Linked DNA regions of Homo sapiens. The protein of the gene in region 3 interacts with the protein of the main gene of each other region in a biochemical or structural test. Each region holds a gene or a part of one and is shown on either strand. Other genes may lie near its edges.

Region 1 (3,500 bases), on a different chromosome or scaffold from region 3:
CACTGGATAAATTACTCATACAGCCTTGCATAGGGAAATTGATGTTTAACACTCAGGAGATTGGCAGTGCCTACTTTCTGGAATCTACTAGCAGGGAAAGGCAATTGCAGTATCTGTTGATGAAAAGAAACATTTGGAGGAGTTTTGCTTACTCTCTGGCTCTGCCTACATAATGTCAAAACAACTGAATTTAGTCAACTGAGTGGGAGAAAAAAGAATCCAAACCAGCTGTTTGGCTATTGTTTAGATATGACTATAAAAAGTAATTGTTAGTAGTAATAACATCTTATGTTTTCATGATTTCTTTTCCCCAGATCAAAATACTCTCTATACTTTGCTACAGTTTCTAGATTTCCTTGTATCTGGGATTAGAAGGAACCTGAGAGTTCATTGGGTACAAGTCCCCATCTGATGCTTGAATTCTCTCTGCAGTATCCTTGTCAGTAGCAATTAGCCTCTGTATAAATGCCTCCAGGAAAAAGCAGCAGCTTACAGATAGCCTACATCTTAGGCAGATCTGCTAGAAAGTCATTCTCAATACTGAGCTGACATCAGTCTCTCAGGAGAATTTATTCACCAGTCTCGTAGCTAGTGCTCTTTAGGTAATTTGAATGTGTTCCTTCCCATTGAGGACCACTCATCTGGAGGGCTGCATCCTTCTCTTAGGTGCTATTAGTGCCCATACTCAGCAGGAAGTTGTCTGTTTGGTGATAGGGTCAAAGAGAGAGAAAGTGAGAGACAGCGTAAGAGTAAGGTACGGTCTCAAGACAACAGAGCATTAAGCCGAGTTTATTCTCCTTAGTCCTTCACTCTTTCCCTCCTTCAATGATGTCACCTCTTATGGCCCAGAAATTAGGAATGAAAGCGTGCTGGGAAACTTACTTTCCTGCCTTGTAACAGGCTCATAGGAAAGAATGAGGTCTTCTTGTCCTCCTGAGAAGAGAAGGAAAGAAAACCACAGTGAACTAACAGTCATATATTACAGAGACAAGCCCTGCTCTGAAACACAGGAAACAGACACAGCTCAGAGTTAATTCTCCTTGCTCTTTCTCCTTGAACCATTCAAAAATAACTTCATCCTCATAAAACTCTTTAGCACCATTTTAGTATCAGATTTTCACAGTCATAACTCTAAGTAATAACTGGTTGCTAGCTATTTGCTGCAGGGCAATGACCTGTGAGACTTCTTTCTGTCTGGCATTGAGAATGGAATGCCATGGCCTCTACACCAAGCATTACTACTTAAAAGGAAGCCATTTAGTTCAAGGAAAGGGTCCAATTCAATAGATGGCTGCTACATAATCAGAATTGCTGTACCTTTTATTTCATCTTCTATTTTATTTCCCCAAGAAGCACACTGTTCAAAAGCAAGTATATGCTTATTTCATTTATGATATAAAAACTTCATCAGGACACTCAGGGTTTTACTCTAATATTAATTCGTCAGGAAAATGCTGTGGGTCAATTAATGAAGATCAAAAATTGAGGTGTGTCCTACATCATTGGTTATAATTGCTGCTAAACTGTGCGTTGAAACTTCAGATAGAGAACTAAGGAAGACACAGTAGTAAAATGTCAGCCCCTCCAATGTCATCTGCTACAAGCCTTCTGACTCAGGGTGGACCTCAAGTCAACAAATAACCATAGAAAGTAAATTGGTTTTTGCCATTTATTTTTTCAATCATCTATTTTATATAATTGATGAATTAATTGGTCAGAGGATTAGCTCAATTTCACCTGCAAACCCGGAAGTGTCTGCATTTTTTTTTGCATTGACTAACCTTTGGAACAGCAATAGGTTAGGGCTGTTGAAAAGAACTTTCTGTCTACTAGAAGAAATAGTGGAGCAGAAGTGGAATATGAGGTAACTTCTGAAACCAAAGGGCAATTCACCTTTGCTGTATATCCTCACCACCCACCCCTGAAGCACATTCATAGTCTATCAATGCCAGGTTTTCCTCCTTCAACAGCCACAGCACCACAGAAAGAGAGGTAATTTCATAAGAAGAGTTAATATGATCGACTGTTTTGATAATGAGACTGATTTGGGGAAATTGAGCAATATGTGGGTATAGCTGCGAAGTTGGATGACTTCCTTGGAGGCTGGGTAGCTGGAATGGGATGGGGATAGGAGTGTCTTACTTTTTCAAGTGTGAGAAATGGCCTCAGGCTGAAGTCATATCTTATCTCAGTCCCAAGGAGGGCCTGGGCTCAGAATGGCGCCACCATGCCAAGCTACTTCTTAAGGGTACAGAGAGTGGACCTTGATGCTCCTCCTAAGTGGTATGTACCCATGGCCACCCCAGAAGTGTTCAGGGGACTCTGCCACATTGGTCAGGGGTTTGGTCAGTGAGGAGTCAGATTCACTATTTCTTGTACTCAGGAAAAGAATGATTCCCTTTGAATAAACTACTGAAATGTACAGAGCCTAGGCCAAAAAACATGAAGGTGATTGATTACTAACCCCCAGTTATCTAAAGCCTGAGCGATGTAGAGGGTATACGCATTCAAGGTTTTAGTTTAGTATTACTTCATCAGGAAAATGCTGTGGGTCAATTAAAGAAGTGTAAAAATTCTTGGGGAGAAAGTATAGTTTTAATGATAGAAGCATCGTAGACTAACATTGCAATTTTAGACTATAACTTTACAGGGGAAATCTTCAACAATTAATGTGCAAGGGAAGAATTCTGACCATGGGATAACAAAAGCTTTAAATGTCAGGTAACTCTTGGACCTCCTTATTAGGCTGGGAGTTTCATAAAGGCGAGAACTGAGTTTTATTCATCACCATGTCTCCAGTGCCCCATTGAGTGCTTAACATAAAGAAAGATGTCAACAAATTTGCATTCTGATTTCAGTCATGGGAAACAGGATGAGTGATGAGGCCAACGGTAGGTTCTATTTTGTGTTTCTGTCAATATGGTCATTTAACTTTGGAAAGCATCGTTTTCTCTAAATAAATAGAGCACATCAAGTTCCCATAAAAATCTCTTCCCAATGGCTTTGCAAATCATTCTGATGGAACGTTCTAAAGGCAAATCTTTAATAAGATATTTGATGTCAGTGTGTATGATTGCGATTCAGACAACTAGGGCAAAGCATAGCTTTGATTAATTTTGTTCAAGAGTTCTCTATCTCTGTCTATCCATCACTTCTTGGTTTACTTTTCTATGAAAGGCACTGGTTCTGGTTCTGGTTCAGAGCAGTAGTGTTGGTAGACAGCAATGGCAGCATCCCTTATGTCCGGGCCACCCCAATTCTCAAGACCTTGTGGCAATCAGGTACTGTGTAATACCCAGGAAGCCTGTGGGGAAACCCGTGGAGGTGGGCATGACATAATTGCTGTGAATTCAGCATCTTAAACTAATTTTTACTTCCATGTCCAAGAATGAAAAGCCCTATGGGTAATGAGGAAGAGACAAAGGGAAAGAGAAAAAGCCACTGTGATGAAGGAGAGAAAATTCATGTCTTTGTGGCACTTTGCGGGCCTTGAGGGGCTT
Region 2 (3,500 bases), on a different chromosome or scaffold from region 3:
CGGTGGTGGGAAGTAGCTCTGGGTCTCAGGCCTCCTTTTGAAAGTTGGGGGTTTGGCGATGATTAAGTGCCATTTGGAGAATTGCTTTATCATGATGCACCTTACGTACGTGCAGACACAGACACACAGAATTTAGAGAAGAATGATTGAGTACCTATTAATTGCCACACACTGAGCTGGAAGCTAAAGATAAAAATAGAGTAGAACACCTCTCAGACCAGGCCAGTGGGGCCCTGACTACCTGAGAGGCAAATTCTAGACAAGCAGACACGAAACAGCACAGGGCAGCTACAATGTGTTCCCTCTTCTATAGATGAGGTCGGGCAACATTTGTCTTCCGGCACATGGAAGGCGAGACTGGTACTGAGACTGAGACTGAGACTGAGACGGGAGAGATGCAGTCACAGGCCAGGGGCACCTGCAGCCACCAGAGCTAGAGGAGGCAGGAAGGAGGCTCCCTGGAGCCTCTGGAGGAATTTGATCCTGGACTTCTGGCTTCCAGAACTGTGAGAAGATAAATGTGCATTGTTTTAAGCCACTAAGTTTGAGGAAGTGTTGTCATAGCAGCCGTGGGAAGCTAATCAGTCTTTTTAGGTAAGTAATATAGCTTTTAGGGAATATCTTCTTAGAAATGTAGGGAATTTGAGCCCAGAACCCCCAGGTTAGAACTTACCTAATTGCTAACATCTACTAGGTACTAAGAGCTCTTTGGAGGGCTTCGTTCCTTTAACACCCCTGGGGTACTGCTGATGCTCCCCACCTACACATAAGACTGTAGAGACGGCAGGTGAGGTGTGGTCCGCATGGTGGCTGCAGCCCCTGGGCGTCTGACTGTGAGAGAGATGTCTCTATCCCACGTGCAAAGGCTGAGAAATGGCCCCAAATGCGTTTCCTTTAAGTGGTTATTGCTTGTGAGACAAAAGGATAACAACAGGAATTAGGAAATCAGAATCAGGAGGAATATACAACTGTTTTCTTATAACTGAGGTTGTCATACAAAATGGGAACAGGTTCATAAGTCGAGTAGATGGCAACAGCTCATGCAGCCCCTCCCCACACACATAGCAGTGAAATGATGTTGAGATCATGCAGAGTACTATGTGATATTCTCCAGATTTGGTGCTTCAAGATGGATTTTTCATAAAAAGACTCTGCAAAGATATGACATTTTATTGAAGCTGAACTAGCAGAAGCTTTGTCAATTACCTACACTGTAATTGCTTTAAAAAGGAAAAAAAAGAAAACCTCTAAAGTCACCATTATCTAAATTGGGGTTAAGAATTTGAAAGGTATTGAGAACATGAATTTGTAACCAAAATACATTATAATCTAAATAAATGGTCTTTTTTTTTAAAGTGGTTCATTTGAAATCCAGAGAGATATGAAAAAAATTGTGTGGACTTCCAAATTATTTTCTATTTTAGCTTTCTAGATGTAGTACAGTAAAATGTACTATTTCTTACATAGTTTAATATTTTGATGTTAGGAGTTATAGTATCAAACATGCCTTATGACAGTCAAAATTTTGGGATAGTACGATATCTAAAACAATGATGCTTGGGTAAGAGTTAAGAAATTAGAACCAAACTCTGAAACTGCTAATAACAAAAGGTAATAAAGGATAAGGACTCACACACAGATAAGACCACTTTTTCTCTGTATATAAAATACATTTGTTCTTTGTAGCAACAAAATGAAATAGAACAAATTGTAATATATTTTGTAATGTATAACACTTATATAAGGTTTAATTATATTTAAAAAATTCATTTCTATGTTGAATAATATTGTAAATTTAGTAATCGAATAAAGAGGAAAATCTAGTAGCTGAAAAAAGGAAGTAAACTGAAAGCTTTCCTATCAGAACAAGATACAAACCCACTAGGAAACAGCTGCATATGTGAATTACGTGCTTTGTAAGCGCTGGGATGTAAATATTCTTTTATGCAACTCTTCCTTATTGAATTGAGGAGAGGACCAGCACAGATCTATGAAAATGCTATGAGCTTTATGTATTGCAATTATTTTCTTCCAAAGCTTTATCAAATTTTGTCGTGACCTACAGATTCTTTTGGTTTTAATCAGGGTGGAATCAGAATGCTTTTAGATTTGTAATTTCCATGTTGGCAGGAGGAAGGGAGTCAGGGAGGCCTGGAGTCGGGGGGAGGTCCAGGGTTCAGCTGTGCTAGGGTCGCCTGGTGCAGGGGGCTGCCTGGGGGTGTGGTGTTCCCGCAGTGGGCTGTGCAAAGTCTCAGGGCGGCCTTTGCTTTACTGGCCTTGGGCTGAATGGAGAAGGTGAACGGAGCAGACCAGTGTCACAGAATTGCATCGTGCAGGCCTTGCCTTTGTGACCCGGGGCTGGAGGCTGCATCTCGGGTGCCGCTGTGCAGATGGAGGGAACCTTTGGGGATGTGATTTGAATCTTCCTATCCCCTTCTTTGGAGTAAATACATTTCCTTTATTCCTTTGATGTTTGTATGAATAGTGGCATGGTATCCGTATCTCAGTACTGAAAGTGAATATGAGATGGAAAAATACAAGGAAGGAAAGTTCCTGTGACCTGGTCTATACCTATCTAGCAGCTCATAGATTTCCTTCTGGCTTTTTCTGGTGTATATTCTGTAAGTTAAACTCATCCTCAAGATAGAATTTTCTATCCTGCTTTTTAGAATTCTCATTATAAAATGATAATTTTCATAGTTTGCTAAGAAATATCCATCAATTACCATCATCCCCCTGCTTAAGGTTCTTCTGTATCAGTGGAGAGGCTTCGGGCAGGTGTTCCCGTAGGAGGGGGCTCTGTTAATGACACGGTCCTTTGCCCTTCTGTCTGGAAAGCAGCACCTGTCCTTGCTGCACTGGCTCAGGCGTCTGTGACTAGGGTGACAGTGTTGCTTAGGAATCCCAGCTGATAGCCAGGCCTGTTCCCTGGTAGGATCCCACAGTGGGGAATGCTGGGCTTCTGGGCCCCACAGTTCTCCCGAGAGCTCGGGCTGCCTGTTCTCCTTTGTTCTCTCCTTTGTTGGGAATGCTTCAGTGCACGATGCTTTTCAGGGTAGGGTCATGTGTGCCTTATTTTCTCATCGGTGAGATTGGATTCCTGTTGTCTCCCAGGTGAGCCCTGGAACTCAGGGTTCAGCTGGATGCAGACAGAGGACTCTGCCCTCGTGGAGGAGCTGGGAGCACGGTGAGCTCTGAGGGTTCCGGGGCACGGCTATAGGTTCTGAAGGGGGTGCTCCTACTGCCTGCTCATGGGAGCACGGTGAGCTCTGAGGGTTCCCGGGCATGGCTGTAGGTTCTGAAGGGGGTGCTCCTACTGCCTGCTCATGGGAGCATGGTGAGCTCTGAGGGTTCCTAGGTTCTGAAGGGGGTGCTCCTACTGCCTGCTCATGGGAGCACGGTGAGCTCTGAGGGTTCCCACGCACGGCTGTAGGTTCTGAAGGGGGTGCTCCTAATGCCTGTTCATGGGAGCACGGTGAGCTCTGAGGGTTCCCGGGCAT
Region 3 (3,500 bases):
TTTTTCTTTCTGTGTTTTCCATCCACCTGCACAAACAGAACATTATTGTAATAATCACTTCTTACATTTAAAAAAGCTTTATGAAAATAAAAAGATTTTTATTGGTTTTCAAAATTCAGAGCAACAGAACATATTTAAAAATTAAGATTGTACATTCTTTGATGAGAACTTCAAAATATCACACTTTTTAAAAAAGATTTGAAAATGTTTATCAATTATTACATAGACATTATTTCCTTTAACCCTAAAAATTCCCAATTCACTGACAAAGGAACTGAAGTTCACAGATCTTAAGTGATTTATCTAAGATTGTCTACTAGCTCCTTTATCTTTGTCACTCCTGGTGTACTATTTTTGGTTCGCTCCTCTTCTTGCTCTCCTGAAAGATCACAACCATTCTAATCTATACCTATGTGCCCACGACCGGCTGATCTACATTTGTGGCTCAGGCCTCTCCAATGGGCATCAGACACATACTCAATTGTGAACTAGAAAGCTCTACTTCACCAGCAAACTGGACACATTCAGAACTGAACTCATTATTTCTGTCTCCAAAACCATCCTTCCTCTTGTGCCTCCTTCATTCCTTATCTCAGGAAAGAACACCACTTAGTCACCTAAGCCATAAAAATCCTACCGAGAATTACTCCTTATCTCTCATATTCAATTACTAACAAATCACCAACTCTTGTGGCTTCCAACATCTTAATATTTCTCATACTCTTGCCCTCCTCTCCATCCCAATGCAATAGCTTTAGCTCTGGCCTCTTTCTTACTTGGATTGTTGGACAAAAATTATCTTTATTATTAATCTCTCTAAGTATCAGACTCTTCTAATATAGTTTTAATGGTGCTGCTAGGATAAACTTTGAAAAATTTCCTTCTACTTTACCAACTCTTACATATTATTTCAATCTCATCTCAACTGTCACTTCTGCAAAAACTTCTATGACCCACACTAGACTGAGGTTGGTGCTCTATCTTCATGCTCCCATAGGATTGGGTACTTACCACTATCAAAACACACTTAGCATACTGAACACAAATATTTATATGTCTACTCCACTAGACGTAAGCTTCCTCAAAGCCAAGAACTAAATCTTTTTTCTATTGTATCCCCACCAGACAGCAGCATAGTCAAACTCCTTCCTTAGCATAAAATATGAGACCTTCTATAGGCTAGCCATCCTCTCCAGTCCCATCATTGCTGAACTCTACTTTGCACCATGTACTCCCATTATACAGGAATGTTTCCATATTTTCCTGTTATTTCAGGTATTTGGTTACACTGTTCTTGCTTCCTAGAATGCTTCTCAAACTCTCTAACAAACACCAATTCACCTTTCAAGATTTAGTTCAAGCATCACCTTTTCTACATAGTCATTCTCCATCTCTTCCCTGCAATAGAACTTGTCACTCCCTTCTTTGAAACCATGCTGTACTCTGTGCAGACCTTTCTCGTATTTTAACACTTCACTACAATCATTTATGTATTTGCCTGGGTCTCTTTTCTAAATATAAGTAATAAAGTGGCTGGGCACAGTGGCTCACACTTGTAATTCCAGCACTTTGGAAGGGTAAGGTGGGAGGATGGCTTAAGCTCAGGAGTTCGACACCAGCCTGGGCGACAAAGTGAGACCCTGTCTCCACAAAAAATTTTAAAAAATTACCTGGGCATGGTGGCGTGGGACTATAGTCCCAGCTACTCATGAGGCTGAAATGGGAGGATTATATGAGCCCAGGAGGTCAAGGCTGCAGTGAGCCACGATCCTGCCACTGTACTTCAGCCTGGGTGGGGCCTGGCAGTATGCTCAAAAATTGTTTAATGAATGAAGGGCAAGTGGCAAAGATAGGAGTAGAGCCCAAGACTTTTAACTCCTAGCTTGAGCTTGGCTCTTTCTATATATTTTCCTGTCTCTGCAAATAATTTTAAGAATTCAGATCAATGGACTATCAAAACTTAGATTAAAAAATTCACCTTCAGTTTGAGTTATCAATACAATTAGAACTAATAAAAAGCTACAACAAACAGATAAAGAAAATTCCTTTCCTTTCTTTTAAGAAATGTTTCTATCACTTTTTTCCTGAATACAAAAAATGAAAACAAGTTTGGTTACTAACACAGAGCAATGGTTTCACTTACCTTGAATCTTGTGGTCACCTTTTCCACTAGGATGAAGTGAACTTTTTCAGCATCTTTTAAGGCAATATCAACCCAATGAGATAATTTTCCCTTTCCCGCTCCAAACTCAACAAAGCATCTTCTTGGACCAAGTAACTTTAAATTTTCAATGTTACCTAAAATAGAAGCCTGCAAACTTCACAAGATTATTTTATAAACTAGAGTAAACACATTTGGTTCAAATGGGAAAACAGCAAGGTAATTTCTGCATAAGGCAGTATGCTTACATTGATAATTTGTATTTGACTTAAAATTTTTCTCTCTTGCCTTTAAATATTTAATATACGGTACTCAGAATCACATCCATGCCCTCAATTTTTTGTATATGTTTCTATATATTTTTGAAATGGAAATATTTGGTACCCTCAAAGGTAAACAAAATAAAATCTTATTAATAATTACATTTAAAACAGTTTTAACAAATGAACAAAGGCCATGTTTAGTAGTTACTATAGCCTAAACATACCTGCTGTTTCAGGTGCTTGGTTGCAGAATCGCCATTTTTAGGGTCATTAAGTGCATCGTGTAATGCTGGATGGGACATAATATGATCTTTAAGTGTAGAATTCAAGCCTGTGCCAAATATAAGCACAACAGCTTAAGCAGCCAAACATGTAATTGTAGGATTCTGAACAATAGTAGTAACATATTTTAAACCAGAATGGTATCAACTCATATACCACCTAATTACTCTAAAATAATTGAACTTGCAACTTTAGGCAGTCTTACCTTCACTTGCTTTTCTCAATTTCTTAATTAACTTTTCCAACTGCTCTTCAGATAGAGAAGAAATTGGAACCTATATACAAAAATAAAACTAAATAATGTAGCCAAAAATTGCTTTAAAGTAGCATAACAGAGACTGAGTAGAGGTTTACCAACTGGGCAAATCCCATGACAGCTTAGGCTCTTCTCTCTATCAAGCCTTTTCCCTAAGCTGCCATCAGAATTGTCCAACTGCTAAATTTCTACTCCGTCTTTGCTGTGCTACTTTAATTTTCCTAACTTCCTCAAGGTCAAGAACAAGTCTAGGCTCAGAAGGGTTCAAGAATCAAAGGGGATTCAGGGCCATATTGTAGCTTCTTTTGTTATGGGGCATGAGCTGGTCTGGGTCTAGGAACTAACCATCACTAACAATATTAAGTCTACAGGAAAATGCATTCTAAATTAAAAACAGACTTGAGACAAAAATTAGAACATGCCTTATTCACATCATGAAGAGAGCTTATAAATATCTTTTAAAATTAAATATTAAGTCAATGTACTTACTAATTGTTCAGGTATTTCTGTTTCATCTCTTAAGCCTGCATTAATATCT
Region 4 (3,500 bases), on a different chromosome or scaffold from region 3:
CCAGGCTGCGCATCACTTTCACCTGGGGGTGGGGGAAGCCAAGGAAAGCTGGTGGTTAACTTCTCACTGTCTTCCTTACCTCTTCCCTCCAAGGAATCAGCTTGACAAGTGTTACCACCTGTATCTCCTACCTCCTATCTTGTGATATGACAGGGCACTAAGATCAGGATGAGGGAAGACCACCACCATATAGATGGAGATGGCTTCATAGGCCTTACCCTTGGAACTGCATTGGGAGAACTGGGGTGGGAGTGGCCAAGTGGCTTGGAGGGCAATACCCAGACCACAGGTGTCCCCAACTTAAGTTACTCCATGAAGTAACTTGGGAGGGGTAGTGAAAACTGTAAATGCCCAAGGAGTGTGAGTGCTCAGGGAGCTCCCCTCCAGGCTCCCTTAGCAGGGCGTTCAGGTGAGGATTATAACATTGAGTTGTACTAAATTGGAGTGTTTTCATGTCCATCATCCTCATAACCTGAGAGCTCTTCTGAACCCTGTATCTTTTGTTACTGCATCCCTTGTACCCTGTTTGTGTTGCTTTTAGTAAGTGTTCATTGAACAAATAATTACGCTGTAATTTAGAGGGAGTGGGATATTCCTCTAGGGCTCTTTTCTGCTTAGTCTTTAAGACAGTAATTCCAAACTGTATTTTCTCTTGAAGCCATTATTTGTAAGGTCTTCTCTCTTCCAATGGTGACACCAACCTCCCGGGCCCCCTCCATCTTCTTACCTCAGTCAGAAAAGTTTTCTGGGTCTCCTCATCACATCGAATTAACTCTTTCATGACCATCACTTTGCCCGTGGCTTTGTGTGTCACCTACAGGGAGGGTGACTGTTAATGGTGCTGAGACCAGAGGAAGTTCTGGAGAACTGTTTGAGAAAATCTATGCAGCTGGCCATCCCATCCCTTGGAGGGCACACTGAGCCGGGTCAGAATGACAGAGTTCATGTGTGGAAGATGCAGCGTGGAGCAACATGGGACTCACACGGAAGCAAACCCTCTTTCCTGGAGAGCTGGGCATGCACAGAGGACAGGCAAGAACCCAGAAAAGGGAAGTGGGGAAGAAGGCAGGAGGGGATGCTGCCAAGCCAAGCAGGGGCTCTGGTCATTTGGCATAGAAGTGAGTCTCCTGAGTGAACAGAAGTCTGGGGGCAGGAAGGTCAGTGCCAAAGACATGCACCAGGGAGCTGGGTGGATCGGGGGTGAGCTCTCCAGCCCTGCTGCCCCCAAGCTGAGACACACGTCTTACCTGACCCCCCCTCCCAGTTCTCAGCAGAAGAGGAGGAGGAGGAGAGAAAGAGAGAGGTTAGTCCCTGAGACTGTTCACCAGGGAGGCAGGAGCCATTCCCCTGTGTGCTCCTTGTAGCATGCCCGGTACTGAGGTCTGCAGGCACCTAACAAACACCCACTGACTGGAGGCAGGAGGGCCACAGGCACAGCTCAACCCAACCTGGATCTCCAGGTCCACAAGCTCACTGTAACAGCAACATTGACCTTAGGTGGCCTGGGTGGGGGTGAAGGATACCTCTCACACCAACACCCAAAGCCAGGAAGGAGGCCTGGCATCCTGCATGGTGTGGGGTGGGGCCAAGTGATGAGAAATCCCCGAAAGACAGTGACAGAGGGACTGGGGGCAGAAGAGCAAAGCAATTGTTGCCTGCGCTCACCTTGATAGCCTGCCCAAAGAAGCCCTTCCCCAGGACCTCCCCATGGATTAGGTCACAGGGCCGGAAGATCTGCTGTGAATAGCTGCTGGAACAACGAAGGGATTCTGAGCGGCTGATGTCACGGCTGAACAGCAGGGGCTCCTTTGGGGAGCTGGGGCCAGGGGACTTGGAGATACTGTTACTGCGCCTGAAGATGAGGAAAGACGGGAGTAGGGATGTGTAGTCCTCAGAGACCGGCCAAGAAACCCTGGAGGGAGGAAACTTAGGGGCACCTGTTCATTCCAATGTCTATAGTTTAGATGTTATTATTGGGGAACAGGGGCTCTTACATCAGATGTATCATTTTGGGGTTGCTGACATCAGTCATTTATTTAAGCATAGTAAAAACACATTCAAAATGGGAACTCTGCATACATCACACATAGAACAATTAACTAGATTCTACTAGCTGATAATGCTCAGTATGTGACATATATGACAACACTGTAGATGGTAATTCACCATCTCCCATATCTGCTTGATTTAAGTACTAACTGGTTTAGAGTGATAGTTATACTAGTATCCAAAAAATGAGCAAATGGGATTTTTTTTTTTTGAGACAGAGTCTCGCTCTGTCAACCAGGCTGGAGTGCAGTGGTGTGATCTTGGCTCACTGCAACCTCTGTCTCCCTAGTTCACCTGAGTCTCATGCCTCCGCCTCCTGAGTAACTGGGACTACAGGCATGTGCCACCAGGCCCGGCTAGTTATTGTTATTATTATTATTTTTGAGACAGAGTCTCGCTCTGTCGCCCAGGCTGAAGTGCAATGGCACGATCTCGGCTCACTGCGACCTCCGCCTTCCAGGTTCAAGCGATTCTCCTGCCTCAGCCTCCCAAGTAGCTGGGAGTATAGGTGCACGCCACCACGCCCGGCTAATTTTTTTTTTTTTTTTTTTTTTTTTGATGGAGTCTCACTCTGTCGCCCAGGCTGGAGTGCAACGGCGGGATCTCCACTCACTGCAACCTCTGCCTCCCAGGTTCAAGAGATTCTCCTGCCTCAGCCTCCCAAGTAGCTGGGATTACAGGCGTGTGCCACCACAACCGAATAATTTTTGTATTTTTTTAGTAGAGATGGGGTTTCACCATGTTGGCTAGGTTGGTCTCGAACTCCTGATCTCGCGATCCATCTGTCTCGGCCTCCCTAAGTGCTGGGATTACAGGCGTGAGCCACCACACCCGGCCCTAATTTTTGTATTTTTAGTAGAGATGGGGTTTCACCATATTGGCCAGGCTAGTCTCAAACTCCTGACCTTGTGATTCGCCCACCTCGGCCTCCCAAAGTGCTGGGATTATAGGCGTGAGCCACTGCGCCCAGCCTAATTATTGTATTTTTAGTAGAGATAGGGTTTCACCATGTTGGCCAGGCTGGTCTCAAACTCCTGACCTCAAGTGATTTGCCCGCCTCGGCCTCCCAATGTGCTGGGATTACAGGCGTGAGCCACCGTGCCTGGCCAGCAAATGGGATTTTGGATGATATTTTGCACATCTTTGTACCTGTCCATGTTTCCTGAATTTTAAGATGATAAACACGTATGATTTTTACAGCAATAAAGTCACTATGTTTACATTTTCAAAAGCGGTCGATAATAGTCATGGTCAATGACTGTTATTTTCACTTACTGAAGAAGGAACAAGAAGGTTGAAGTCCACAGCACTGCAGGTGAACAGCCCTGCGAACTTTCTCTCTGGGGTATGCTCCTGCTTTACTTGGGCTACCCAGAGAGGACTGACGCTGGATGGCTCTTGGCTTGTCCCGACCTACAGGTTTACTTACCCTTGTCCTTTTGCTCTGCCTC

Evidence for each region. Proteins that work in one complex are often made in the same cells at the same time.
Region 1: the proteins of TRMT13 (region 3) and DLG2 interact in a test that uses a peptide from one of them, tested with the Homo sapiens proteins (one large-scale study listed by IntAct).
Region 2: the proteins of TRMT13 (region 3) and SNTG2 interact in a test that uses a peptide from one of them, tested with the Homo sapiens proteins (one large-scale study listed by IntAct).
Region 4: the proteins of TRMT13 (region 3) and LIMK2 interact in a test that uses a peptide from one of them, tested with the Homo sapiens proteins (one large-scale study listed by IntAct).

What each region holds. Positions count from the first base shown.
Region 1 is NC_000011.10:83,471,845-83,475,344, forward strand, and holds part of DLG2 (disks large homolog 2), read right to left. Parts: intron 934-3,500; coding exon 883-933; intron 1-882. UniProt on the Homo sapiens protein: Required for perception of chronic pain through NMDA receptor signaling. Regulates surface expression of NMDA receptors in dorsal horn neurons of the spinal cord.
Region 2 is NC_000002.12:957,349-960,848, forward strand, and holds part of SNTG2 (gamma-2-syntrophin), read left to right. Parts: intron 1-3,500. UniProt on the Homo sapiens protein: Adapter protein that binds to and probably organizes the subcellular localization of a variety of proteins. May link various receptors to the actin cytoskeleton and the dystrophin glycoprotein complex.
Region 3 is NC_000001.11:100,139,663-100,143,162, reverse strand, and holds part of TRMT13 (tRNA:m(4)X modification enzyme TRM13 homolog), read right to left. Parts: coding exon 3,452-3,500; intron 2,982-3,451; coding exon 2,912-2,981; intron 2,756-2,911; coding exon 2,649-2,755; intron 2,312-2,648; coding exon 2,144-2,311; intron 27-2,143; coding exon 1-26. UniProt on the Homo sapiens protein: tRNA methylase which 2'-O-methylates cytidine(4) in tRNA(Pro) and tRNA(Gly)(GCC), and adenosine(4) in tRNA(His).
Region 4 is NC_000022.11:31,264,298-31,267,797, reverse strand, and holds part of LIMK2 (LIM domain kinase 2), read right to left. Parts: intron 1,853-3,500; coding exon 1,666-1,852; intron 815-1,665; coding exon 728-814; intron 23-727; coding exon 1-22. UniProt on the Homo sapiens protein: Serine/threonine-protein kinase that plays an essential role in the regulation of actin filament dynamics. Acts downstream of several Rho family GTPase signal transduction pathways.